Homo sapiens: one gene and its partners. The gene in region 4 interacts genetically with the main gene of each other region. Each region holds a gene or a part of one and is shown on either strand. Other genes may lie near its edges. The genes, in order: CNOT1, GTF2E1, SPAG7, UBA2, COPE, ACTL6A and PAFAH1B1.

What was found.
Region 1: changes in UBA2 (region 4) and CNOT1 together harm fitness less than expected from each alone (positive genetic interaction), as found in Homo sapiens cells (one large-scale study listed by BioGRID).
Region 2: changes in UBA2 (region 4) and GTF2E1 together harm fitness less than expected from each alone (positive genetic interaction), as found in Homo sapiens cells (one large-scale study listed by BioGRID).
Region 3: changes in UBA2 (region 4) and SPAG7 together harm fitness less than expected from each alone (positive genetic interaction), as found in Homo sapiens cells (one large-scale study listed by BioGRID).
Region 5: changes in UBA2 (region 4) and COPE together harm fitness more than expected from each alone (negative genetic interaction), as found in Homo sapiens cells (one large-scale study listed by BioGRID).
Region 6: changes in UBA2 (region 4) and ACTL6A together harm fitness less than expected from each alone (positive genetic interaction), as found in Homo sapiens cells (one large-scale study listed by BioGRID).
Region 7: changes in UBA2 (region 4) and PAFAH1B1 together harm fitness less than expected from each alone (positive genetic interaction), as found in Homo sapiens cells (one large-scale study listed by BioGRID).

What each region holds. Positions count from the first base shown.
Region 1 is NC_000016.10:58,525,327-58,528,826, forward strand, and holds part of CNOT1 (CCR4-NOT transcription complex subunit 1), read right to left. Parts: intron 3,323-3,500; coding exon 3,149-3,322; intron 2,780-3,148; exon of another isoform or gene 2,597-2,779; intron 813-2,596; coding exon 663-812; intron 34-662; coding exon 1-33.
Region 2 is NC_000003.12:120,749,244-120,752,743, reverse strand, and holds part of GTF2E1 (general transcription factor IIE subunit 1), read right to left. Parts: intron 2,222-3,500; 5' UTR 2,192-2,221; coding exon 1,744-2,191; intron 1-1,743.
Region 3 is NC_000017.11:4,958,726-4,961,771, forward strand, and holds the end of SPAG7 (sperm-associated antigen 7), read right to left. Parts: intron 2,129-3,046; coding exon 2,061-2,128; intron 1,823-2,060; coding exon 1,734-1,822; intron 1,594-1,733; coding exon 1,509-1,593; intron 1,387-1,508; coding exon 1,297-1,386; intron 1,192-1,296; coding exon 1,035-1,191; intron 919-1,034; coding exon 809-918; 3' UTR 501-808; downstream 1-500.
Region 4 is NC_000019.10:34,452,381-34,455,880, reverse strand, and holds part of UBA2 (SUMO-activating enzyme subunit 2), read right to left. Parts: intron 1,622-3,500; coding exon 1,528-1,621; intron 1,438-1,527; coding exon 1,325-1,437; intron 1-1,324. UniProt on the Homo sapiens protein: The heterodimer acts as an E1 ligase for SUMO1, SUMO2, SUMO3, and probably SUMO4. It mediates ATP-dependent activation of SUMO proteins followed by formation of a thioester bond between a SUMO protein and a conserved active site cysteine residue on UBA2/SAE2.
Region 5 is NC_000019.10:18,902,388-18,905,887, forward strand, and holds part of COPE (coatomer subunit epsilon), read right to left. Parts: coding exon of another isoform or gene 3,480-3,500; intron 3,243-3,479; coding exon 3,189-3,242; intron 2,466-3,188; coding exon 2,384-2,465; intron 1,037-2,383; coding exon 881-1,036; intron 1-880. UniProt on the Homo sapiens protein: The coatomer is a cytosolic protein complex that binds to dilysine motifs and reversibly associates with Golgi non-clathrin-coated vesicles, which further mediate biosynthetic protein transport from the ER, via the Golgi up to the trans Golgi network.
Region 6 is NC_000003.12:179,576,426-179,579,925, forward strand, and holds part of ACTL6A (actin-like protein 6A), read left to right. Parts: intron 1-194; coding exon 195-301; intron 302-336; exon of another isoform or gene 337-398; coding exon 399-488; intron 489-3,500.
Region 7 is NC_000017.11:2,600,154-2,603,653, reverse strand, and holds part of PAFAH1B1 (platelet-activating factor acetylhydrolase IB subunit beta), read right to left. Parts: intron 1-3,500. UniProt on the Homo sapiens protein: Regulatory subunit (beta subunit) of the cytosolic type I platelet-activating factor (PAF) acetylhydrolase (PAF-AH (I)), an enzyme that catalyzes the hydrolyze of the acetyl group at the sn-2 position of PAF and its analogs and participates in PAF inactivation.

The DNA of each region.
Region 1 (3,500 bases), on a different chromosome or scaffold from region 4:
GAGGTTGTAGCGATTCCCAGGTTCATTGGATACCTTAAAATGAGCAAAACAGAACTCCTTATGCTTACTCCTGCAGAGGACCAATTCTAGCACCAGTATTTCTAAACCCTTCTTACACCTTCATGGAAAGGCCAAACATTTATTGTGATTCACTTGCTTGAATTTGTGAGGTTATTTAACAAACACACAGATGCTCCAAAGGTGGTTGTATCAATAAGAGAAATGTGATTTCCCTCAGGAAGCCGAAGCTCAAGGCACAGCTCTAAAGTAAAGTTTATAAAATCAAAATATGCACTGTGCCAATTAAAGATTTGGAGAGAAAGTTGTAGTTGCATGGCATATACAGACTGTAAATATATAACTTTCCAAAATATCCTATAGAGAAATGTAAATCAGCATCCAGGTATTCAGAAAAATCCTAGGAGTACCAACAGCTAATGACTGTCTGTGGTCTACTCTTCTAGTGCTGTCTTGTCCAAAGCTGTAGCAAAATATCACTGATTAAATGAACTAGTAAAATACGTAAATCCAGTTAATCAACCTCACCCAATTGATGGAAATGACAATAAAAGACTAACTCCCAAATGGACCACACACAGGACCATACATAGAAAGTGCTTTATATGGAAGACGTAGATGAGTTTTAAGCCAAACCAATTAACCTGTAGGTTGCTGCGCAGATCAGACAGGAAAGTGACTGGTGATCGAGTTTTAAGATAGGAATCCAAATCCTTTTTGAACTGAGGTGGCATTACTCCAGTGAAATTGGTGAGAATCCGGGGAGCAATGTTAATTTCACTCAACATGTCCACCTGCCACAGATAAAATGCAAGAATCACAAGCAGAATCATTTTTATTAGTAAATTACATCTATGCTTAAGTGGTGGGACTGTTTTTCTAAAACTATATACACTATAAATGCCTTGAAGAGCACAGCTGCCACATTTTATTAATCAGTCTTTCTTTCTTTAGAAGAATCTTGGTTCAAAATGATAAAAATTTCCCACTCTATAATGTATTTCCTTCCCAGAGGCAAGATACCTTTTGGGCAAAGGTCTAATTTGCACAACTAACTGATTTTTCTTGGACTTCGGTTTCAAAATAATAATCCGGAATAAGATTCCTCACTCACCAAGAGTCTTTGAAAAGAAGCCCCAGCAAGACCAGACATCACACTTACTCCTTAAAAAAAAAAAAAAAAAAAAAAAAAATTGAAGCCGGGCGCAGTGGCTCACGCCTGTAAACCCAGCACTTTGGGAGGCCGAGGTAGGCGGATCACCTGAGGTTGGGAGTTCAAGACCACCCTGACCAACATGGAGAAACCCCATCTCTACTAAAAATATAAAATTAGCTGGGTGTGGTGCCTGTAATCCCAGCTGCTCGGGAGTCTGAGGCAGGAGAATCGCCTGAACCCAGGAGGCAGAGGTTGCAGTGAGCCACAGCTCGCGCCATTGCGCTCCAGCCTGGGCAACAAGAACGAAACTCCGTCTCAAAAAAAAAAAAAAAAAAAAAAATGCATGTGTCAGAAAGAGTAGAGACTACATCTAAACTATAGCTGGGCACTTCTAGTGGTGTGCACCTCTAGTCACAGCTACTCTGGAGGCTGAGGCAGGAGGACGGCTTGAGCACAGGAGCCTGAGGCTGAAGTGCACTATGTTCACACCTGTGAATAGTCACTGCCCTTCAGCCTGGGCAAAACAACGAGACCCCTGTCTCTTAAACAAACTATAGTAGCCATGTCAGGGTGGTGAGATTTTAAGTGGTCCTCTCTCTCCTTTATTCCAACAACTTACAAAAAAATACAGTGGGTTCTCCATACCCTTAGGTTCCATATCTAATTAACCTCAAATCGAAAATATGGGGGGTGAAGGTAGAGGTAGATGATGGGGTCAATAAAAAATAATACAACAATAAAGGCCGGGTGCAGTGGCTCATGCCTGTAATCCCAGCATTTTGGGAGGCCAAGGCAGGCAGATCGTGAGGTCAGGAGTTTGAGACCAGCCTGGCCAACTAGTGAAACCCCGTCACTACTAAAAATACAAAAAAAAAAATTAGCCAGGCATGGTGGCGGGCACCTGTAGTACCAGCTACTTGGGAGGCTGAGGCAGGAGAATCACTGGACCCCAGGAGGCGGAAGTTGCAGTGAGCTGAGATTGCGCCACTGCACTCCAGCCTGGGTGACAGAGTGAGACTCTGTCTCAAAAATAAATAAATAAATACAAATAAATAATAATACAACAATAAAAAACACAAATTTTAAAAAGTTATTAATATAGTTTAAAATAGTTATTTCCATAATAGCATTACACTACATTAGGTATCATAAGCACTACAGATGTCATTTAAGGGGATATGCAAAGGTTATATGCCACTTTACATACAGGACTTAAGCATACTTAAAATTTGGTGTCCCAGTGGGTCCTAGAACCAATCCTCCAAGAATAGCAAGGGACCAAGGAACAACTGCACAAGTGCACAGACACAAAACTGTGAAATATGGAGACTATGGCAGGGCGTGGTGGCTCACACCTGTAATCCCAGCACTTTGGGAGGCCGAAGCAGGCAGATTACTTGAGGTGAGGAGCTCAAAACCAACCTGGCTGACATGGCGAAACCCCATCTCCACTAAACACATAATTAGCCAGGTGTGGTGGCGAGTGCCTGTAATCCCAGCTACTTGGGAGGCTGAGGCGGGAGAATAGCTTGAACCAGCGAAGGGGAGGTTGCAGTAAGCCGAGACTGCACCACTGCACTCCAGCCTGGGTCACAGAGTAAGACTCTGCCTCAAAAAAAGAAAAAGATTACAAAGGTCTGTTTGTTCTGCAATTCTTTGCCATGTGGGGCACACCCAGCAAATGACTGCCCCAACACCTAAGCTGTGGTTCTGTAAATAGAGCTAAATTTAATATCAAAATTAATATGAAAACTAGCAACTAGAAAAATGCTGTGAACCAATATTCACCAGCAACAGCAATAGCAACAATATCATACCTTCTATCAGGCTTAATAACATTATTTCCTTTAAAGAGTACCCTTAACTAATAGTGTGCGTGTTATGTTGGGTAGGAAAGTGCTGAACAGTCTACTTATCAGAGAAAGGACTGAAATATTAAGACATAAGTTTTCCTTTAACTAGTTGGAACCTTACCTTTAGATTAGGAGTGAATGGGTCGGGGAGCCTCATGTTTCTTGGAAAGGCACTCAGGATCAAATTTCTTAACTGGATACAATTAGGTGGGATCACATCACAGAACCCATAATGGTAATCACAAAGGAACTCTGGGAAATCATGCAAAAGAACCAGCAGCACTCTTAAAGTGCCCTATTTTTAAAAAACAAGAAAAATATTTCCACACTAAGGAAAATGGAGTAACATTTTCCTATTGTAACTTAAGCCCCCCACCCCCCTCAAAAGAATGAAGTATACTTTAGTAACATTTCTTAAAAAGTTTTAGGCTTTAATTAACATTATCACAGATGATTTATCAAATATTTCCATT
Region 2 (3,500 bases), on a different chromosome or scaffold from region 4:
TTCATAAAATACTTTCATGCCCTCTACCCTAACTCCTTGATTCAAGTCACCTTGACTGTACTGGATGGAATGTTAGGCCATCTCTTCCACAGGCCATCTATTGAGTCAACTAGTTTCATTCAGAATCCAGGTGAAATTCAAGAGTATCATGATCAGTCTCCCAAATACTGATATATAAGTAGTGGAATCATCTCCTTTTAGAAAGTTTAATTAAATTAATATGACTCAAATGACAAATAAATGTAGTAGAAGCATGTTATTTTAGATTACTCTAAGGGACTGGATAACACCTTCTACTGTGGTCAAGAGTGATGAAGCCTCCACTGTTAAAACCAACATCTGTAGAGAATTACAAAACCAAGAACCCAGAGCTCCTGTAAGAAATCTGTTAGAGTGAATGGCAAGAATCATGAGACTTTTCTAGTCTATTTTGAAGAGCTCCAGATATATTCTACAACCTTCCTCTATAGAACACTCAAGCAATTCTCATACCGAGGATGGTTAAGACTTTCTTATAATCAAGATCTCTCCTTGTGGAGCCCTTTCAAGGTAAAAAGCTCGGCTCAGACAAATTAAATGTTTAATACAATTGTGAATTCCTTAAATCAGTTTTCATCCAAAATCATTGCCTCACAGTAAATAAGAAAAAAAGGTCACAGATTGCTTCTGGCTCTTTTTGTCAATAATCTTAATTTATATTGGGGTTATTTCCCACTTAAAAATTTTTTTTAATTATTTAAAATGTACCATATATAACATAAAAATTAGAAAATAAAACATACACAGAAATCTGTAATTTTGCACAACCAAATATTTCATGGGTCAAAGTTTAAACTTTCAGACGAAGTTTTTAAAAAAGCAGATCTATGAACTAAAAAGTAGCCTATACTCCTGAATTCAACCATAACAAAGGGACTTAATCTAATTTAATAGCACTGAGTCCTTCTATAGATTTTTACCTGTAGAAAATAAGACAAAATTGATCGAGTATTTAGCAAAACTAGTCTCTTTTTTATTGTGTAAACAGATAACAAGATAAAATAACTATATAACTCAGAACTTTAAAGTTTCTCATGTTTATGCTAGACATATTGTATTTTCAGATAATGCATGCTTTCTAAATTGTGTTATGAAAAATCCTTAAAACTATTCAATCAAATCAGGCCAATTATATATCTTGTTGACAATTTTCTTCCAACAATAATGTGTATCTAAAGGACACTAAATGTCTTATCTTGGAAAGAATTCCCCTCTTATTTCATCTAGCTAACTCTTACTATCTTTTAGGTCTCAAATGTTAACTTCTTCCAGAGGCCTTCCCCAAATCCAGATTATATGCCCTAGTTATATACTCCTGATACCACTTTCTACTTCCACTAACAAAGCATTTAAATACACTGTATTGCAACTGTCTAGAGGTCAAAAATAAAATTAGAACAGCCTCAAAGTGGTAGAGAAATCAACCCTTCAGATTAGGCTGCAGTTGTAAACAAGGTGGGGTGGGCAGAGGCAGGAGGGCCATAAGTGAGAAACTCCCTTGTAAAGGAGAAACGCTTTGCAAAGGCTTCTCAAAGTAGTGCGACAGCCAAACAGGACAGTAAGACTGACTGTATGCTGTGATTTACACTGATCCATTCACTTTTATAATAATATATATGATGGTTTAAAAATTAGATGAATCAATTTAAGAAAAAAGGTAATACACACTTTATTTTAAAGATTCACAAACTGGATAAACCTCACCTGTCATAGGATCAAAGAGCTGATTAGCTTCTAAGTCTGTGAAAGTACTACTACAGACAGGACATTTGAAGGAAGCCCGGTTGGTCGAATCTCTCTCATCGGTCTCAATTCTTCTTCTCATGTGGTCCAGTTTATATTTTACCACATTAACAAGAGTACGATAATTGATGAAGTAGTAGTTATGGCGAGTGGTTTTCCCGTCTGCAGCAGTCTCTACCCTCATTCTGCATTTGATAAACTTGTCTCCCTTTAAATTATTCAAAACTGATCGAAGTTGCTTCCGATCAAACTTGAGCAGCTCCAGCATATCCTCCTCTTTCACACAGGAGTTCCTGATCAAGATGTCCAAGGCCAAGGCATGCTCAATGCCATAAAATCCCCGGATCACATACTTGGCTAACCGCTTCAATGCTGCTGGAACTTCAGTGAGGACATCTGGGTCTGCCATCTTTAGCAACGAACTCCAACTTTAAATATACTGAATTCAAAAAAAAACAGAAAATTAGCCAGGTATAAGAACATGGTAATCATATCCACTATCCTTGCAGTGCCAGAAAAGTACCCAAAGTGTTTAAAAAGATTTCTAATACCTAAGCATTTAACAGAGCAGAACAAGATTTTCCTCTAGAATGCACAAAAGATTACACCCAAAAAGCTTTACATATTTCTTAAATGGCTACTTTTATGATCTATAGTGTGTTTGATTAAAAAGTAACTTTTTATTTATAAAACAATATATTACGTCAAGTCTACTTTACTTCAGAAGAGAAACACAAAAAAAGCTACATGAAATGCTCACTATTCTTTGGGAATGCTGGAAACCCTGAGAAAACTAGCAGTTCGCATTTCCTAAAAGTGTCTTTGTTTCCTTTCTTGAGTAAAATTTTTCTACCAAGATTCTAGGATGTTTTACATAGTCATGCTTTCACAATAAAATCACAACAAACCAATAAACACATGAGTAATCACCACCTGGGGTGTTTGACAAAATCATTAACTGTTGTAAAACTGAAAGAAAGTAATACTTAGATCCAGACAGTTTTACCAACCTTGAAAAATTGAATCTGATAATCAAGGAAAGACCATCCAGTCCTTAAAAAGGTAGAAAATGAGGGAGGGAGAGCAGCCCAAAATATTCTTAAATACTGGATCCCTTGACAAAGCAGAAACTAAGTGTATCTCATTTCCGTACCATGACCCAGAAAGCTGTCTTCTCAAAGCCCACATTGGCATATAGTTTACTTTAAAAACCTGGGCTTCGGGCAGAGACACAACCAAAAAGGAGAATTTTAGACCAATATCCTTGATGAACATTGATGCAAAAATCCTCAATAAAATACTGGCAAACCGAATCCAGCAGCACATCAAAAAGCTTATTATCCACCATGATCAAGTGGGCTTCATCCCTGGGATGCAAGGCTGGTTCAATATACGCAAATCAATAAATGTAATCCAGCATATAAACAGAACCAAAGACAAAAACCACATGATTATCTCAATAGATGCAGAAAAGGCCTTTGACAAAATTCAACAACTCTTCATGCTAAAAACTCTCAATAAGTTAGGTATTGATGGGACGTATCTCAAAATAATAAGAGCTATCTATGACAAACCCACAGCCAATATCATACTGAATGGGCAAAACCTGGAAGCATTCCCTTTGAAAACTGGCACAAGACAGGGATGCCCTCTCTTACCACTCCTATTCAACATAGTGTTGGAAGTTCTGGCCAGGGCAATCAGGCAGGAGAAGGAAA
Region 3 (3,046 bases), on a different chromosome or scaffold from region 4:
TGAGCCACTATGCCCAGCCCGATTGCACTCTTAAAATACAGCATCTTACAAAACCCTCTGGGCCGGGCACAGTGGCTCACTCTTGCAATCCCAGCACTTTGGGAGGCTGAGGCGGGCGGATCACCTGAGGTTAGGAGTTAGAGACCAGCCTGGCCAATATGGTGAAACCCCATCTCTACTAAATGTACAAAAAATTACCCGGGTGTGGTGACACATGCCTGTAGTCCCAGCTACTCAGGAGGCTAAGGCAGGAGAATCGCTTGAACCCTGGAGGCAGAGGTTGCAGTGAGCCGAGATCACACCACTGCACTCCAGTCTGGGCAACAGAGAAAGACTCTGTCTCAAAACAAACAAACAAACAAAAAACCTCTGATAGTTCCAACTGGCCATCTTTAACCTACACAAACAGCAATTTTATGCTGTTCAACTGAAAATTATTCCCCTTCTTCTCTACCAGTGGTTCCAGGACCCACCTTTCTGTGTATAAACAAACCAGGACATTGGGTTAAACAGTATTTATTGAATGTAAAGTACCCCAGCCCCATGGGGAAGAAAATTCCAAGAACGGGGAATAATACAGATTAAATACCCACCTGTGCATTCACACTCTCACACACACACACACATGCCACGCACATATCCAAGCTCCAACGGTGACAAATCAAACACCTGTTTTCCCCCAGCCTGAGGGACAGCTGGTAGGAGGTGGTTCAGAGGTGGGGCTCCAGGATGGGCTCTAATAGCAGCAGCCTTGTCTCTCCCTGCCCCCTGCCCTGCCCCAGGGGTCAAAGGGAGCTGGGCGGGGCGCCTAGGAGGTTGGCGGCAACTCTTCCCCACTCTGCCGCAGACGCTTCTTGGCTCTGATCTCATTCATAGCCTCTTCAATGGAGCGTGTGTCCCTCTTATTGGCCACGGGCACTAGGGGCAGAGAGGAGGGTAGGGCGGGCCTAGAAATCCGTACCTCAGCCTCCACTGCCCTCCTGCCGCATCCTATGCTCCTCTCCCAGCCACCCCCAGCCGCACTGTGGCCTCACCACAGCCGTAGGTCTTATTGGCCTGTAGCATGTGGGCTGCGTCTTTGGCTGCTCCCTTGCCGATGAGGTGGCTGTACTTGTCCTTGTAGTCGCTGGCAGGGCTCACCACCACAGGCCCCTGCTGGGCTGCCTCCTCCTCTTGCCTCTGGGCCAGCTCCTAGGGGTGAAAGTGGGGGCACTGGTGCTCAGGGCCCCAGCCCAAACCCCCACCCCTCCCAGGTGGTGGGCTTCTGGACCCCAAGGGCTGCAAAGCATAGCTCACCTTCAGCTTCCGCTTCTCCTCAGCCTTCTGGGGGTCCCATTCCTCTCCACGACGGTAAGAGTCTAGCTCTTCATCTGAGGGTGCAAACTCCTGAAGAAGAGCAGAATGATGGGGTCAGAGTCCATACAAATGTTTCATTTCATTCCTTGGTCGGGGAGGGGGGATAAGGCTACAAAGGGGAGAGGAGAGAATGAGGAATTCAGGCCCTTTACCTTTTTGAAGATCATGACATAGCGACAGTCATCATCTTCCCCAAAGGAGAAGGATGTCAGGCCAGCCACTTCCACCACATCATGTCTGGGATGGGATGGCAGAGGGGAAAGAGCATCTTGAGCCAGGAGCGGGCCTAGTGCCCTCCTCTGGAGGAGCCCCCCGCTGGCCCTTTCATGCCCCGCTAGCCACCCATTTCCTTCCTCCCCCAGCCCAGGGACACTCACAGTATGCTCCTCTCGATCTTGTTCATTGGCTGAAACTTTTTCTTGATCTGCCCACTGTCTTGAATGAAATCTGACACCTCCTTCTCCATCTTGGGAGAGGGGAAAGGAAGCAGATATGAGACAATGGCTCCACCCAAGTACCCCTCTCCCTAGCTGAGCCTGGGCCCTTCTACGCCTCCCCAGCACCCTCCCCAGCCTCCAAGCCACTGGCTTCCATGCGTCACCTCTCTCAAGACATTTTCAGCAAAACTGAGTCCTCAACCTTCCAATTTTAACTTATTGGAAGTCCTTCCTGAGTCTGCCTTTGATCACTCCAGTTGTTCTCACCCTTTTACGAAACTCCACTTTCTGTTGTTTCTCTTGCTCTTGTAGTTTCTTCAGGCGGGCGGCCTGTTCTGGGGGTGAGAAATGGCAACATGAAGCCAGGGCTGGAAGCATGGGTGGGAAAGGTTTCTAAGGCTTCAAGTGAAGTGTGGTGTCCACTGGGAGGTGTCAGGCTGGGAAGGTAGGATTAGCGTTTATTCATCAAGCATTTATTGATGTTTATTCTATCTAATAGTCCCCCTTATCCACAGGGGTTCATTCCAAGACCCTCAGTGGATGCCTGAAATTGTGGATAGTACTGACCCCTATACATACTATGTCTTTTTCTATACATACATGCCTATGATAAAGTTTAATTTATAAATTAGGCACAGTAAGAGATTAAGAATAATAGACCAGGCATGGTGGCTCACGCCTATATCCCAGCACTTTGGGAGGCCGAGGCAGACAGATCTCCTGGGGTCAGGAGTTCGAGACCAGCCTGGTCAACATGGTGAAACCCCATCTCTACTAAAAATACAAAAATTAGCCGGGTGTGGTGGTGGGCGCCTATAATTCCAGCTACTGGGGAGGCTGAGGCAGGAGAATCGCTTGAACCTGGGAGGCAGAGATTGCAGTGAGCTGAGATCGCGCCATTGCACTCCAGCCTGGGCAACAAGAGTGAACTCCGTCTCAAAAAAAAAAAAGAGATGGCCGGGTGCAGTGGCTCACACCTGTAATCCCAGCACTTTGGGAGGCCAAGGTGGATGGATCATGAGGTCAGAAGATCGAGACCATCCTGACTAACACGGTGAAACCCTGTCTCTACTAAAAAAAAAAAAATATACAAAAAATTAGCTGGGTGTGGTGGTGGGCGCCTGTAGTCCCCACTACTCGGGAGGCTGAGGCAGGAGAATGGCGTGAACCTGGGAGGCGGAGCTTGCAGTGAGCAGAGATGGCGCCACTGCACTCCAGCCTGGGCGACACAGCAAGACTCCATCTCAAAAAAA
Region 4 (3,500 bases):
ATCATGAGGTCAGGAGTTCGAGACCAGCCTAACCAACATAGTGAAACCCGTCTCTACTAAAAATACAAAAATTAGCCGGCATGGTGGCATGCACCTGTAATCCTAGCTACTGAGGAGGCTGAGACAGGAGAATCGCTTGATCCTGGGAGGTGGAGGTTGCAGTGAGCCAAGATTGTGCCACTGCACTCCAGCCTGGGCAACAGAGCTAGACTCCGTCTCAAAAGATAAAAAAAAGTAAGTGTGCATCAATGACACTGCAAAATAACAGTACCATTGCAAACTAGATATTTTTTGAAATTTCTGAAGGTAAACAGGTCTTTTTATTTCAATGATAAAAAGGAGAACCTAAACAACAGTCAAAGTATTGGCTAGTATTTCCTAGGAAGCCTTCTTGAGCTGGTAAGAAAGCGAAGTGTCTGCAGACACAACATCGAAGGAAGGAATCCAAAGAGAACATCCAAGTAGTGTTAGCCTTAAGAGATACACCTACCCCACCCACCACTAAGGTAGGAACTCTTAAAACAGGAGACCCTTACACAAAGCAAGGACCTGAAAAGAGAGGAGAAAAATACTTTCTCCATAAAAATGATCTTAAACTTGGTGCTTAGTGGAGGGGGAGGAGTATCTTCCCATATAATTCATGACAATAACATAGGGCACGTGCAGGTTTGTGGTCTGAATACATAGGTATTGAAAATCCTAATTTAAAAGTGGTCCTGTATTGGCAGTGCCCCAAGCACCCAAATATAATAACCACAAATGCTCTTTGAAGAAATACATCTACAATGGGTCCCTAAAGAATTACCAGACACAATTCTAATACACATTCAGTTTTTAAAAAATCATAAACCATACAAGCAAATCACTACGAGAAATAGCAGAAATGACAGCAGACTCACCCATAAAGATCTCAGACATTAACATTATCAAAAACTATACAATAAAATTGAAAAGAATGACTCAATAGGAGAATGACTGAACAGGGGACTATAAAATGACCAAGCAAATTTTAAAACCCATATAGCACTCTCAGAATTGAAAAACAGTTGAAACATCTTCTTAGTATAAGGACCGCACAATGAATTCTTCGAAGAATTCAGTAAAATTGGAAATGTTAAAAGCAAAAGCAACTTCTTAATTTTTCCTTTTTGTTGCAATTTCCAGGAAGCTTAAACACACACTCACTTGGTAACCAGAAAAATTACTTTTCCATTGCTTTAAACCAATTTTATTGTTTTCATTTTAAAAATTATCTGTTTAATGTACTTTTAATTAATGATTTTTTTAAGGGGGGTTGCATAAAAATGCAAACAGAAATACTCACTGTTCTGCACTGGTCTATTTTTCCTGATAAAATCTTCAATCCTTCCAATACTATCAACCCAGCAATTACTGCATTAGTAGTAGCAATAGCAGGAATAATGTTCCCTGCCATTGCTGGGAAAAAAAAAAAAGGATGAGTATGTTTCACTGTTTAAAAAACAACTTCAAGGTTTTAGTGATACAACTTTAGTACAAATAACTTACATTTGATATCAAATCTACTCTTCATATTCATACTGAAAATATGCATCCTGAGGTTTGCAGCAGAGGTGACAAAATCCATTGCAGATGGGTCATCCTGCCAATAATTTAAACAATTTAACAAGTTTCTCCACAAATTGACTATTTTGAAGCATTACTTTCAGAACAATACTTTCACGTGTTTATAATACTATAGACTTTCGACTAGAACAAGAGGTTGCTGAGGGAAAGACCAGTCAGCTAGGACCTCACAGTAGCATGGAGGTGGGTTAAGTAGGGGGTGGGGTCTCATCATCAGCTCCTCTGGTCCAGTAATGAGTCTGACAAGAACACCAAGAATCACCAGCTTCTAGGAACTCACTCCAGCCTAAACAAAGGCACCGGAGACTCAGTTGTATACACCGGAATCTCAATTCCACTCACTGACAATGGCAACCCTTTCCTGGTTCCATTCATCAGTAAAGAGAAGGTTGCTGGACAAACACAGAATCCAGGCCAAAAGACGAGCAATTTAAGAAAACTGTTTTAGGCTGGGCATGGTGGCTCATGCCTGTAGTCTCAAGCAATTTAGTAGGTTGAGGCAAGCAGATTGCCTGAGCTCAGGAGTTTGTGACCAGCCCGGGCAACGTGGCAAAACCCCATCTCCACCAAAAACACAAAAAATTAGCCAGGCATGGTGGCGCACACCTAAAGTCGTCCCAGGTACTCGGGAGCCTGAGGTGGCGGGATCACTTGAACCCGGGACGCAGAGGCTGCAGTAAGCCAAGATCATGCCACTGCACTCCAGCCTTGGTGACAGAGTGAGACCCTGTCTCAATTAAAAAAAAAAAAAAAAAAAAGCTGTTTCATTAACACTTCAGAAAAACCTGGATGACTCTTTTTCACTCCCCTTTGCCAAACTCTCTTCATATGCACCACTCTCTCACATATGCTGTTTCTTCAAATAAGGCAATACAATCCAAGTTTTTCCTGTTACGATTTGTATTTTTCCTGAGACTATATCCTAGTCTCTAGATTTCAGCAAGGCTTCCTGCTTTGAACTGAGAAGATATCACCCTGGTCTAAAATTCAGAGGCATCACAGAACAGAAGAAAAAATACTGAGAGCATAGTTCTTTATGTATTTATTGGCTGGCTGTGAATCCTCAGGCAAGTCAAATTCCTTGAGTCAAAATCTCTTAATCTATTAAATAGGGGAAATTATATCCCCATCTCATAAGGTGTGGTGAGGACTAAGAATACTGAATACTCAACACAGTGTCTTCCCTAAGCAGCTGTCTTATCACACCCATTACATGTGGACTTTACTCAAGAGGATAACAATTCCCATTCCAAGGGCTCTTTATTTAGCCTCTGTGCACTAATCAAACTTCCCAAATCACTAGCATAACAATAACAATGAAAATATGAAAAGTTACCCTTTAAATATCACAAAACCCAAGAGACTAATGTTTATAAGAATCCCAAGAATCTAAATATACTAGCTTCATTTTAGTGTATTTAGATGTCTGATTCAACCAAAGTTTCAAAATATGTACACACAAATTTTTCTTAGGTTTCTAAAATTGGCCTTTATGCCTTAAGACCCATGACTAATCTTCAACACCACAGGAACATACAAGCTTCATGAGATAAAACACTTTTAGCCATAGAAAATACTGATTACAATTAAAATTAAGTAAAATTAGTTCATAATATCAAATCTCAAAAGATGACATAACTGCAGAGTACTATTAAATATGATTTTAACTTCTAAGAATAATTACATCTCATTTTTGTATCAAGAGCTCTGTCTTTCAGACCTCTGAAATAGTAATAACTATTTCAATTCAAAGACAATCTTACTATTTTCAAGGGCAAATCAGGCCAATGAGATGTTTTCTCCAAATGATTTTATGACTTCTATGAATACATCTACTCTACACAAGAAACATTTCACTTTAATATATTCACGTTATTTTTCTAGTCAACATAATT
Region 5 (3,500 bases), about 16 Mb from region 4:
GGCGTGGTGGCTCACGCCTATAATCCCAGCACTTTGGGAGGCTGAGGCGGGTGGATCACCTGAGGTCAGGAGTTTGAGACCAGCCTGACCAACATGGCAAAACCCCGTCTCTACTAAAAATACAAAAATTAGCCAGGCGTGGTGGCAGCCGCCTGTAATCCCAGCTACTTGGGAGGCTGAGGCAAAAGAATCACTTGAACCCAGGAGGCGGAGGTTGCATTGAGCTGAGATCACACCACTGCACTGCAGCCTGGGTGACAGAGTGAGACTCCATCTCAAAAAAAAAAAAAAAGAAGAAAGGAAAGGAAGGAAAGGAAGGAAAGGAAGGAAAGGAAAGGAAGGAAAGGAAGGAAAGGAAGGAAAGGAAGGAAGGAAGGAAGGGAAAGAAGGAAGGAAGGAAGGAAGGAAGGAAGGAAGGAAGGAAGGAAGGAAGGAAGGAAGAAAAGACTGCAGACATCAGGCAGGAGATGACTGCAGCCACCCTGGGCAGGCAGCGCTCTCTCAACGAAGAGCTCCTGTCCACAGCACACTCTCCCCTACATAAGTACGGGGAGTGTCTCTCCAATACTGAGTATGTACTCAGGTGAGGGGTCCCACTTGCAGGTCCCGGGCCAGGCAGCTGAGGTGACAACAAGGACGGCTCAGACCACTGAGGCCCAGGCTGCCCAGATGCCCCATTTCTGTGAGGCCGGAATCTGGATTTCTTTGCAGGTGAGATCCCTGCTTTGTGGATCTCGCTGCTGACTGGGCCTTAGAAGCCCTGTGGGGCCACACGCACACCCAGGGGGTCTCTGCTACACTTGTTTCTGTCCGCCCTGACCCCACCCTCTGGCCGCCTGGCCTTCCCTCCGTCCCCACTCTGGGACAGGCTTGTGCCTACCTTGTCTAGCGCCTCCTGCAGCAGGCCCTCAGCGGCCTCCCAGCGGCCCTGGGCCATGTGGCAGGCCGCCTGCCCATTGAGCAGCAGCAGGGTGGGCGAGCACTTGTCAGCCATCTCCTGGAAGATGTAGTAGGCATCCTGCAGCTTCTCACCACCCTGCAGGGAGGGTCCCGCATCATTGCCTGTGCCCCTGCTGCCCGGCCCTTCCCCCGCCAGCCCCCTCCCCTAGCGGGGGGGACTCCAGCACTGCACAGAGACGAATCTGGTGTGCCCGGTTCAAGGCACAGCCACTCCGCCATGGGGACTACCCGTAACTTGTACTCTGCTGATGGGGCCTAAAGACTCGTGGCCGCCTCCTGCCCCACCTCCCACCCAGCTCCCGGAGTGCTGAGTACACAGAGGTGGAATCTGGGGCTTCCAAGGCCTCAGTGCACAGGTGGCTGGCTCAGGGTCTGAGTGGGGACCACTGGGTCACTGAGCACGTCAGAGGAGGAGGAGTCAGCTCTGTGACCAGCAGCCCTGACCTGTCCACTTGCTCAGAACAGCAGAACACTTGCAGGGGGAGCCTGAGGCCAAGGCAGGCAGTGAAAACAGCCCAAACTACCCGATAGGTCTGCCGGGGCCTGTCCTACCATACTAGACGGTCACTGGAAGTCTGTCTGGGTGAGGCTTCAGCCCCGTGGCGGGCAGGGACGGGGAGCACATTTTTTTTTCTTTCTCAGAGTTTCACTCTTGTTGCTCAGGCAGGAGTGCACTGGCGCGATCTTGGCTCACCGCAACCTCCACCTCCCGGGTTCAAGCGATTCTCCTGCCTCAGCCTCCTGAGTAGCTGGGTTTACAGGTGCATGGCACCAAGCCCAGCTAATTTTGTATTTTTGGTAAAGATGGGGTTTCTCCATGTTGGTCAGGCTGGTCTAGAACTCCCAACCTCACATGATCCACCCGCCTCGGCCTCCCGAAGTGCTGGGATTACAGGCGTGAGCCACTGCGACCAGCCAGGAAGCACATTTTAATAGGCCCACACAAAAGAGTGGCTCAGAAGGGGGCCAAGTCCCAGAAACCAGGAGAGGGGCTGTTGCCGGGCGGAGGTGCCCAGGCCTGGGAGCTGAGGACATCTCCACCGCTGCTATGGGAACACTGAACTCCGTCCCTGGCTGGCGACCAGGACCCTGGAGAGCAAAGCTGAGTCGCAGAAAACCCCAGGAAGCCCTGAGGGGAGGAGGGCCTGCCAGGCCAACCCAGACCCTCGAGTACCCCTGTGCCTCAGGCTCAGGAACCCGTCCCCGCCCCCACCATCTCTTCGCTCTGGCTCTGGCCAAGTCGCTTGGCTGTGAGAAGCCCGGAATGGAGTCAAGGCTGAGTTATGCCAGGCTGGCAGGGGCCACGGCCTGATCCTGGAGCCCCACTGGAGTGGCCAGCAGCCTACGCACAGGTGGGGGTGCCCACAGACCCTGCTCAGCCAGGTGCCCGCAATGCCCACCCACCTCATGGCCTAGGGCTCACCGTGGCCAGGCTGACCCAGGCAGTGGCGAGCTGGGTGAGGGTGGCATCCTCGTCCAGGTCCTGCATTCTCTTCAGCTCCTTCCTGGGGCGGGGACAGATGACAGAGGGGCTGAGTGGCCGAGGGCCCTGGCCTGGCCATCCCTGCCTTGTCCCCACTTGGGGCCCACCGGAGCCTGGGGATGGCCCCTGCTTTGTGCTCCACTGCATGCTCATACCCCACGACTAAGTGCCCGAGCCACCCTGCCCGTCTGACCACGTGCAGGCCCTGGGAAGGTGGGACTGGGGCCAGCTATGGCCCCCCAGGGTGGCCACCACAAGGTAGAGCTCAGGAGAGACTCACTCCATGGAGGATGGAACGCAGGGAAGGGCAACGGAACTACAGTGTGAACAACTCTGAGGCAAGGGCTTTGGAAACGGCAGCAGGGGAGTCCTGGACCCCCAGCCATGGCCTCCGACCTGGTGATGCCACGTGCAGGCCCCGCCAGCCCCACGGCACAGTTACAAGCTGGTCAAGTAACATGTTGCTCCAGGCACAACCTCCACTCTCCCTCCATGAAGCCCACCCTCACCCTGTGGGAGAGGCCTGCCACCCACTGCATAGAGAGAAACTGAGGCACAGAGAGCCATGGCCCTCCTCCCTGGCAACATACTGCAGGGAAGGGCTGAACGACAGCAAGCCACCCCCATGGAAAGGAAAGACAACAAGAGTAATGACAGCACCACAGACGCTCTGGGCTGTGACGCTCTGGGCTGTGACGCTCTGGGCTGTGGCTCAGTGCGGGTGGAGAGGGGCAGGAGGGCTCACCGGGCGAGGTCCAGGCGGTCCAGCTTCAGCAGGATCTGCACTGTCATGGCTGTGCTGCAGGACAGGGCGAGGGGGCGGTCAGCGGGTCGCCACAGACACATTGCATGGCCGCTCCACACCCAGGGCTCACTGTGTGTGTCTGGGATGTTCCTAAGTCCTGTGCTTAGGACCACCAGCCCCGCCCAGCAGAGGAGGACACCCTCACTCCCACATTTCACCGCTCAGCTTCCTCAGGCCCAGGAGCTCTGGGGGAGGTACCCAGGATGGGGTTTCAGGCCCCGGCCCACTCACCGCCCATCTGGAGAAGCAGCC
Region 6 (3,500 bases), on a different chromosome or scaffold from region 4:
TTTTTTAAGTATGTTAAAAATCTTTAGTATATAATGTATATTTAAAACTGATGCATGGCTTTATTTATGTGTTGAAGGATAGTTCAGTTCATTCTACCTGAAAAAGTTATTCACATAAATACACCCACAGAGGAAATTCGTTCAAGGAAGTTTGGACTTACTGCCCTCTTAGCCTTGTTTCATCTGTTTCATAGGCATTGTGAAATCCCCTCTTGCTGGAGACTTTATTACTATGCAGTGCAGAGAACTCTTCCAAGAAATGAATATTGAATTGGTTCCTCCATATATGATTGCATCAAAAGTAAGTAATTATTGAATTTTCTTTGTAGAACTTACTTCTAGCTCCCCCACCCCTATGAAGTGAACTCCATTAACCTAGCATCTCTTGGTACTCTCAGGAAGCTGTTCGTGAAGGATCTCCAGCAAACTGGAAAAGAAAAGAGAAGTTGCCTCAGGTTACGAGGTCTTGGCACAATTATATGTGTAATGTAAGTAACCCTCATTCTCTTTACAAAAATGTTACAGGCTTTTTGCATGAGTATTAAAAAAAGTTATATATAGGCTGTAAATCCTTGAGTAAAATATGGGCACTTTATATTTTCAAGCTCTTTATTTTTTTTATTACTAAATACATTTTGAAGATTAAATAGAACATGATCTCAGGGTCACACTCTATATTTTTAATGATATTTTACTAACAAAAGAGCTTTTCTGTGAGAGGCATGCTTTTCATACTTGCCAAACAAATCTCTACAAATTACTACATACTCACTTGGATTACTATGGTGAGACCTGGAAGGAATTTTGGTTTTATGCTATTCTGAACATTTTTGGCTGAGAAAATGGTTTTAGGTTTTGTAGAGGCCTACTAGTATGTCTCAGTTATGTTCTGTTTCCCAGCATCAGTCAGCAATATCAAAAATGTGTTTTTGTTCAGAACAAGGAACCCATGAGAGATTCTCTTTACTAAAAACCCATCTCTGAACATATGGCTTACTGATGGGGAAGAGGTTAGTAAAACAACCTGATGCCACAGATACGCCTTAATTTCTTAAAAAAAAAACAAAAAAAAACTGTTACTTTAGGTTCAGGGGTACATGTGCAGGTTTGTTAAATGGGTAAACTCATGTCACGGAAGTTTGTTGTACAGATTATTGTCCCCCAGGTACTAAGCCTAGTACCCAATAGTTATTTTTTCTGCTCCATTCCCTCGTCCCTCAGGGAGGTCCAACTGTCTGTTGTTCCCTTCTTTGTGTCCATGTGTTCTCATCATCTAGCTCTCACTTGTAAGTGAGAACGTGCTGTATTTGGTTTTCTGTTCCTGCATTAGTTTGCTGAGGATAATGGCCTCCAGCTCCATCCCTGTTCCTTCAAAGGACATGATCTCATTCTTTTTTTTTTTTTTTCACTACATAATATTCTGTGGTCTGTATGTACCACATTTTCTTAATCCAGTCTTCCACCGACGGGCATTTAAGTTGATTCCATGTCTTTGCTATTGTGAATAGTGGTGCAGTGTACATACACATACATGTGTCTTTATGATAAACTGATTTATATTCCTTTGGGTATATACCCAGTAATGAGATTGCCAGGTCAAGTGGTAGTTCTGGGCCAGGCATGGTGGCTCACGCCTGTAATTTGAGAGGCTGAGGTGGGTGGATCCCTTGAGCTCAGGAGTTAGAGACCAGCCTGGGAAACATGGCAAAACCCTGTCTCTACAAAAACAGAAAAATTAGCTAAGTGGGGCCGGGTGCAGTGGCTCACGCCTGTAATCCCAGCACTTGGGGAGGCCGAGGCGGGTGGATCACCTGAGGTCAGGAGTTGGAGACCAGCCTGGCCAACATGGTGAAGCCCTGTCTCTAAAAATATAAAAAAATTAGCTGGGTGTGGTGGTGGGTGCCTGTAATCCCAGCTACTTGGGAGGCTGAGGCAGGAGAATTGCTTGAACCCAGGAGATGGATGTTGCAGTGAGCCAACACGGTGCCACTGCGCTCCTGCCTGGGCGACAGAGTGAGACTCCATTTCAAAGAAAAAGAAAAATTAGCTAAGTGTGGGGGTGTGCACCTTTAGTCCCAGCTACTTGGGAGACTGAGGTGGGAGAATCACCTGAGCCCTGTGAGGTCGAGGCTGCAGTGAGCTGTGATTGTACCAGTGCCTTCTAGCCTGGGTAACGAGTGAGAACCCATCTCAAAAAAGAAAAAAAAACAAATGGTAGTTCTGTTTTTAGCTCTTTGAGGAATTGCCACATGGCTTTCAACAATGGTTGAACTAATTTACATTCTCACCAAAAGTGAATAAACGTTCGCTTTTCTCTGCAGCCGTGTCAGCAGCATCTGTTATTTATTTAATTTTTTCAAGACAGAGTCTTGCTTTGTCACCCAGGCTGGAGCGCAGTGGTGCAGTCTCGGCTCACTGCAACCTCCATCTCCTGGGTTCAAGCAATTCTCCTACCTCAGCCTCCTGAGTAGCTGGGACTACAGGTGTGTGCCACCACACCTGGCTAATTTTTGTATTCTTAGTTGGCCAGGCTGGTCTCTAACCCTTGACCTTGTGATCCACCCGCCTCAGCCTCCCAAAGTGCTGGGATTACAGGCGTGAGCCACTGTGCCCGGCCCTATTTTTTCACTTTTTAATAATAAATAATAGCCATTCTGACTGGTGTGAGATGGTGTATCATTGGGGTTTTGATTTTCATTTATCTGATGGTCAGTGATATTGAGCTTTTTTTCATATGCTGTTGGCCGCATGTATGTTTTCTTTTGAAGTGTCTATTAGTGTCCTTTGCCCACTTTTTAATGAGGCTTTTTGTTGTTGTTGTTCCTTATAGAAGCTAGGTATTAGACCTTTGTTAGATACATAGTTTGCAAATATTTTCTCCTATTCTGTAGGTTGTTTGCTTACTCTGTTGATAGAAATTAATGTGTATCCAGCAAAAGAAACTAAGAGTAAAATTATATGAGTCATAATTTACTATGAGAGGGATCATATCTAACAGGTTTTTTAAAAATTATTTTATTTATATCATATACACACACACACACACACACACACACACACACACATTTTAAAGACAGGGTTGGCTGGGCACGGTGGCTCATGCCTGTAATGCCAGCACTTTGGGAGGCCAAGGCAGTGGATCACTTGAGGCAAGGAGTTCAAGACTATCCTGGCCAACATGGTGAGACCCCATCTCTACTAAAAATACAAAAATTAGCTGGGTTTGGTGCTGAGCACCTGTAATCCCAGCTACTTGGGAGGCTGAGGCAGGAGAATTGCTTGAACATGGGAGATGGAGGTTGCATTGAGCCAAGATTGTGCCACTGCATTCCAGCCTGGACGACAAGAGCAAGACTCTGTCTCAAAAAATAAATAAAGACAGGGTCTCTCTCTGTCACCCAGGCTGGAGTGCAGTGGTGCAGTTGTAGTTCACTGCAGTCTCAAACACCTGGGCTCCCCCTGCCTCAGCCTCCTCAGTAGGGAGGACTACAGGTGCATGC
Region 7 (3,500 bases), on a different chromosome or scaffold from region 4:
TATACATATATACATACTTTTTTTTTTCCTTGAGACAAAAGTTTTGCTCTTTTTGCCCAGGCTGGAGTACAGTGGTGCAATCTCAACTCACTGCAACTTCTGCCTCCTGGGTTCAAGCAATTCTCCTGCCTCAGCCTCCCAAGTAGCTGGGATTACAGGCATCTACCACCACGCTCAGCTAATTTTTTTATTTTTAGTAGAGACGGGGTTTCACCATGTTAGCCAGGCTGGTCTCGAACTCCTGACCTCAGGTGATCCACCTGCCTCGGCCTCCCCAAGTGCTGGGATTACAGGCGTGAGCCACCGCGCCTGGCCTGTATTTTGAAAAATACAAAAATTACCCAGGCATGGTGGCGCGGGCCTGTAGACCCAGCTACTCAGGAGGCTGAGGCAAGAAGACTGCTTGAGCCCAGGATTTGCAGAGTTGTAGTTAGCCACTGCACTCCAGCCTGGGCAACAGAGCCAGACCCTGTCTCAAAAAAAAAAATCATTCTTTTGTCAAAATGTATTCACTGCACTCTGTTCTGAGATACTACAAGTTGCTCTAGACAGAGAGGACAGCAGGAGTAGAATCACAAAGATCACAAAGTGGGGAGGGAGAAAGCATATATATATTAGAGTGTGAGCAAGGTGGGGCTTGATTAGAAATGAAACTTGAAGTGACTGAAGACCTAGCAAACTGTGTTAAAGTATGTGGACTATAGGAAAGAGGGAGTCAGCACAGTACGGTGGCTGAAAGCCCCAACTGTGGAGCCTCAGTACCTGAGGTTCAACTTTCAGCTCTGCTACTTACAAAGCTGTCACAAAGGGCTAGCTAAATTCTCCCAGAATGTTGTGAGGAGTAAACGAATACTTGTAAAGCACTTAAAACAGAGCCTGGCGTATTAGTAAGTGCTATGTAAATATTTGTTAAATAAATACAAAGGGAGCCAAGGGAGGGTTCTTTTTAAGTAGGGAAGTGTGATATGGTCAGATTGCATTTTAGATAGATGACTGGGGACTATGTAGCAGAAAGACGTTAACCGGACAAGACTGAATTTAGAGAGACGATGTGAAATTAGTTGGGTAAGAGATTATGTGAACTATGATGGTAGTAGTAGTAATGGTAAGTATGGATAGAAGGGGACTAACTCAACAAATATCGAGGAGGTAAAATTGGCAAGACAAGGTAATTGATTGGATATAGAGGAAGAAAGAAGAGTCAAGGTTGAGTCCCACGTAAAGTATTATTTCTAATGTTTTTAAAAGTAATATTCTTCTAAGAACTTTGGATCCTAGATGTCTTCTGTGCTAGTGACATTTGATGTCTTGGGGTTGTATTATGATGCTTCCATAAAAATGCGAACCACAGGCCTGTTTAAACTCTCAAATTGATAGGCCCTCGCTGTTTTGTTTTTTTTTTCAGTAGGTGGAGATAATTTCTCTTTAAGGACATACCATTATACAGAACACTTATTTAGCCCAAGTCGAAGAGCCAGAAAGCTTGAATAATGATTTTATTAAGTGGGGTTTTTTTTTATCTTTACGTTGGGATTTGTGATGATAAAGACTATAGCATCATGGTAATACTGTAAAAATTTTTAAGTGACTGCTGAACCATTAAAGACAAATTAAAATTTGTTAATTCTGTTATTTCCAATTTTTTCACTGTTCATTCATATATGATAAACTTTGATAACCAGAATATTTCATTACTTATTGATCCCTTTGACAAATCTTAGCTCATTTCTACATTTGTCAACTTTAAAAATATTTTTTCTTAGGCTGAGAGCAGTGGCTCATGCCTGTAATCCCAGCACATTGGGAGGTAAAGGTGAGCAGATGGCTTGAGGCAGTTTGCTTAGGCTAGGAGTTTGAGACTGGCCTGGGCAACATGGCAAGACCTCACCTCTTACAGAAAATAGAAAAATTAGGCCGGGCGCCGTGGTGCATGCCTGTAATCCCAGCACTTTGCGGGGCCGAGGCAGGAGGATCACCTGAGGTCAGGAGTTCAAGGCCTGCCTGACCAACATGGTGATACTCCATCTCTCCTAAAAATAGAAATATGAGCCAGGTATGCCGGCAGGCACCTGTAATCTCAGCTACTCGGGAGGCTGAGGCAGGAGAATTGCTTGAATCCAGGAGGCAGAGGTTGAAGTAAGCCAAGATCATGCCATTGCACTCCAGCCTGGGCAACAAGATTGGGAGACTCCATCTCAAAAAACAAAAATTAGCCAGGTGTGGCTGGGCACGGTGGCTCATGCCTGTACTCCTAGCACTTTGGGAGGCCAAGGTGGGCAGATCACGAGGTCAGGAGTTCGAGACCAGCCTGGCCAACAGAGACCCCCCATCTCTATTAAAAATACAAAAAACTTCACTGGGCAGGGTAACAGATGCCTGTAATCCCAGCTATTCAGAAGGCTGAGGCAGGAAAATCACTTGAACCCAAAAGGCGGAGGCTGCAGTGAGCCAAGATCGCAACACTGCACTCCAGCCTGGGCGACAAGAACGAGACTCAGTCTTGAAAAATAAATAAATAAATAATAAATAAATATTCATGTATGAGTTTAGTCAACAGCTTATTTCATTTTCTCTGACAATGCTAAATGTATAGCCTTTCCTCACCCATAAAAAGTTAACCAAGGCCAGGCATGATAGCTCATGCCTATAATCCTAGCACTTTCAGACACTGAAGTGGGTAGATCACCTGAGGTCAGGAGTTCGAGATCAGCCTGGCCAATATGGCGAAACCCCATCTCTACTAAAAATAAAAAATTAGCCAGGTGTGGTGGCACATGCCTGTAATTCCAGCTATTACTAGGGAGGCTAAAGCAGGAGAATCGCTTGAACCCAGGAGGCGGAGGTTGCAGTGAGCCGAGATCGCGCCACTGTACTACAGTCTGGGCAACACAGCGAGAGTCCGTCTCAAAAAGAAAAACTTAACCAAAATACTAAATAATCAAAACATCTGACTCATTTATCTCCATCTTCTTTCTTTTGTAGTTAGCATATTTTTTATAAAATAAAAATATGAAAAGAAATAGATAAAACACTAGTATATCATAGAACATATTCTTTCTTTTTTTGGTTTTTTTTTTTTTTTTTTGAGATAGTTTCACTCTTGTTGCCCAGGCTGGAGCGCAATGGCACGATCTCGGCTCACTGCAACCTCCGCCTCCCGGGTTCAAGCAATTCTCCTGTCTCAGCCTCCCAAGTAGCTGGGATTACAGGCACCCACCACCACACCTGGCTAATTTTTGTATTTTTAGTAGAGACAGGGTTTCACCACATTGGCCAGGCTGGTCTGGAACTCCTGATCACCTTCTGCCCGCCTTGGCCTCCCAAAGTCCTGGGATTACAGGCATGAACCACAGTGCCCAACCCATAAAACAAACTCTTCTATCTTTACCTTAGATTAAAAATGGATTGGGCTGGGTGTGGTGGCTCACACCTGTAATCCCAGCACTTTGGGAGGCCAACTCGGGTGGATCACTTGAGGCCAGGAGTTCTTTAGTAAAAAT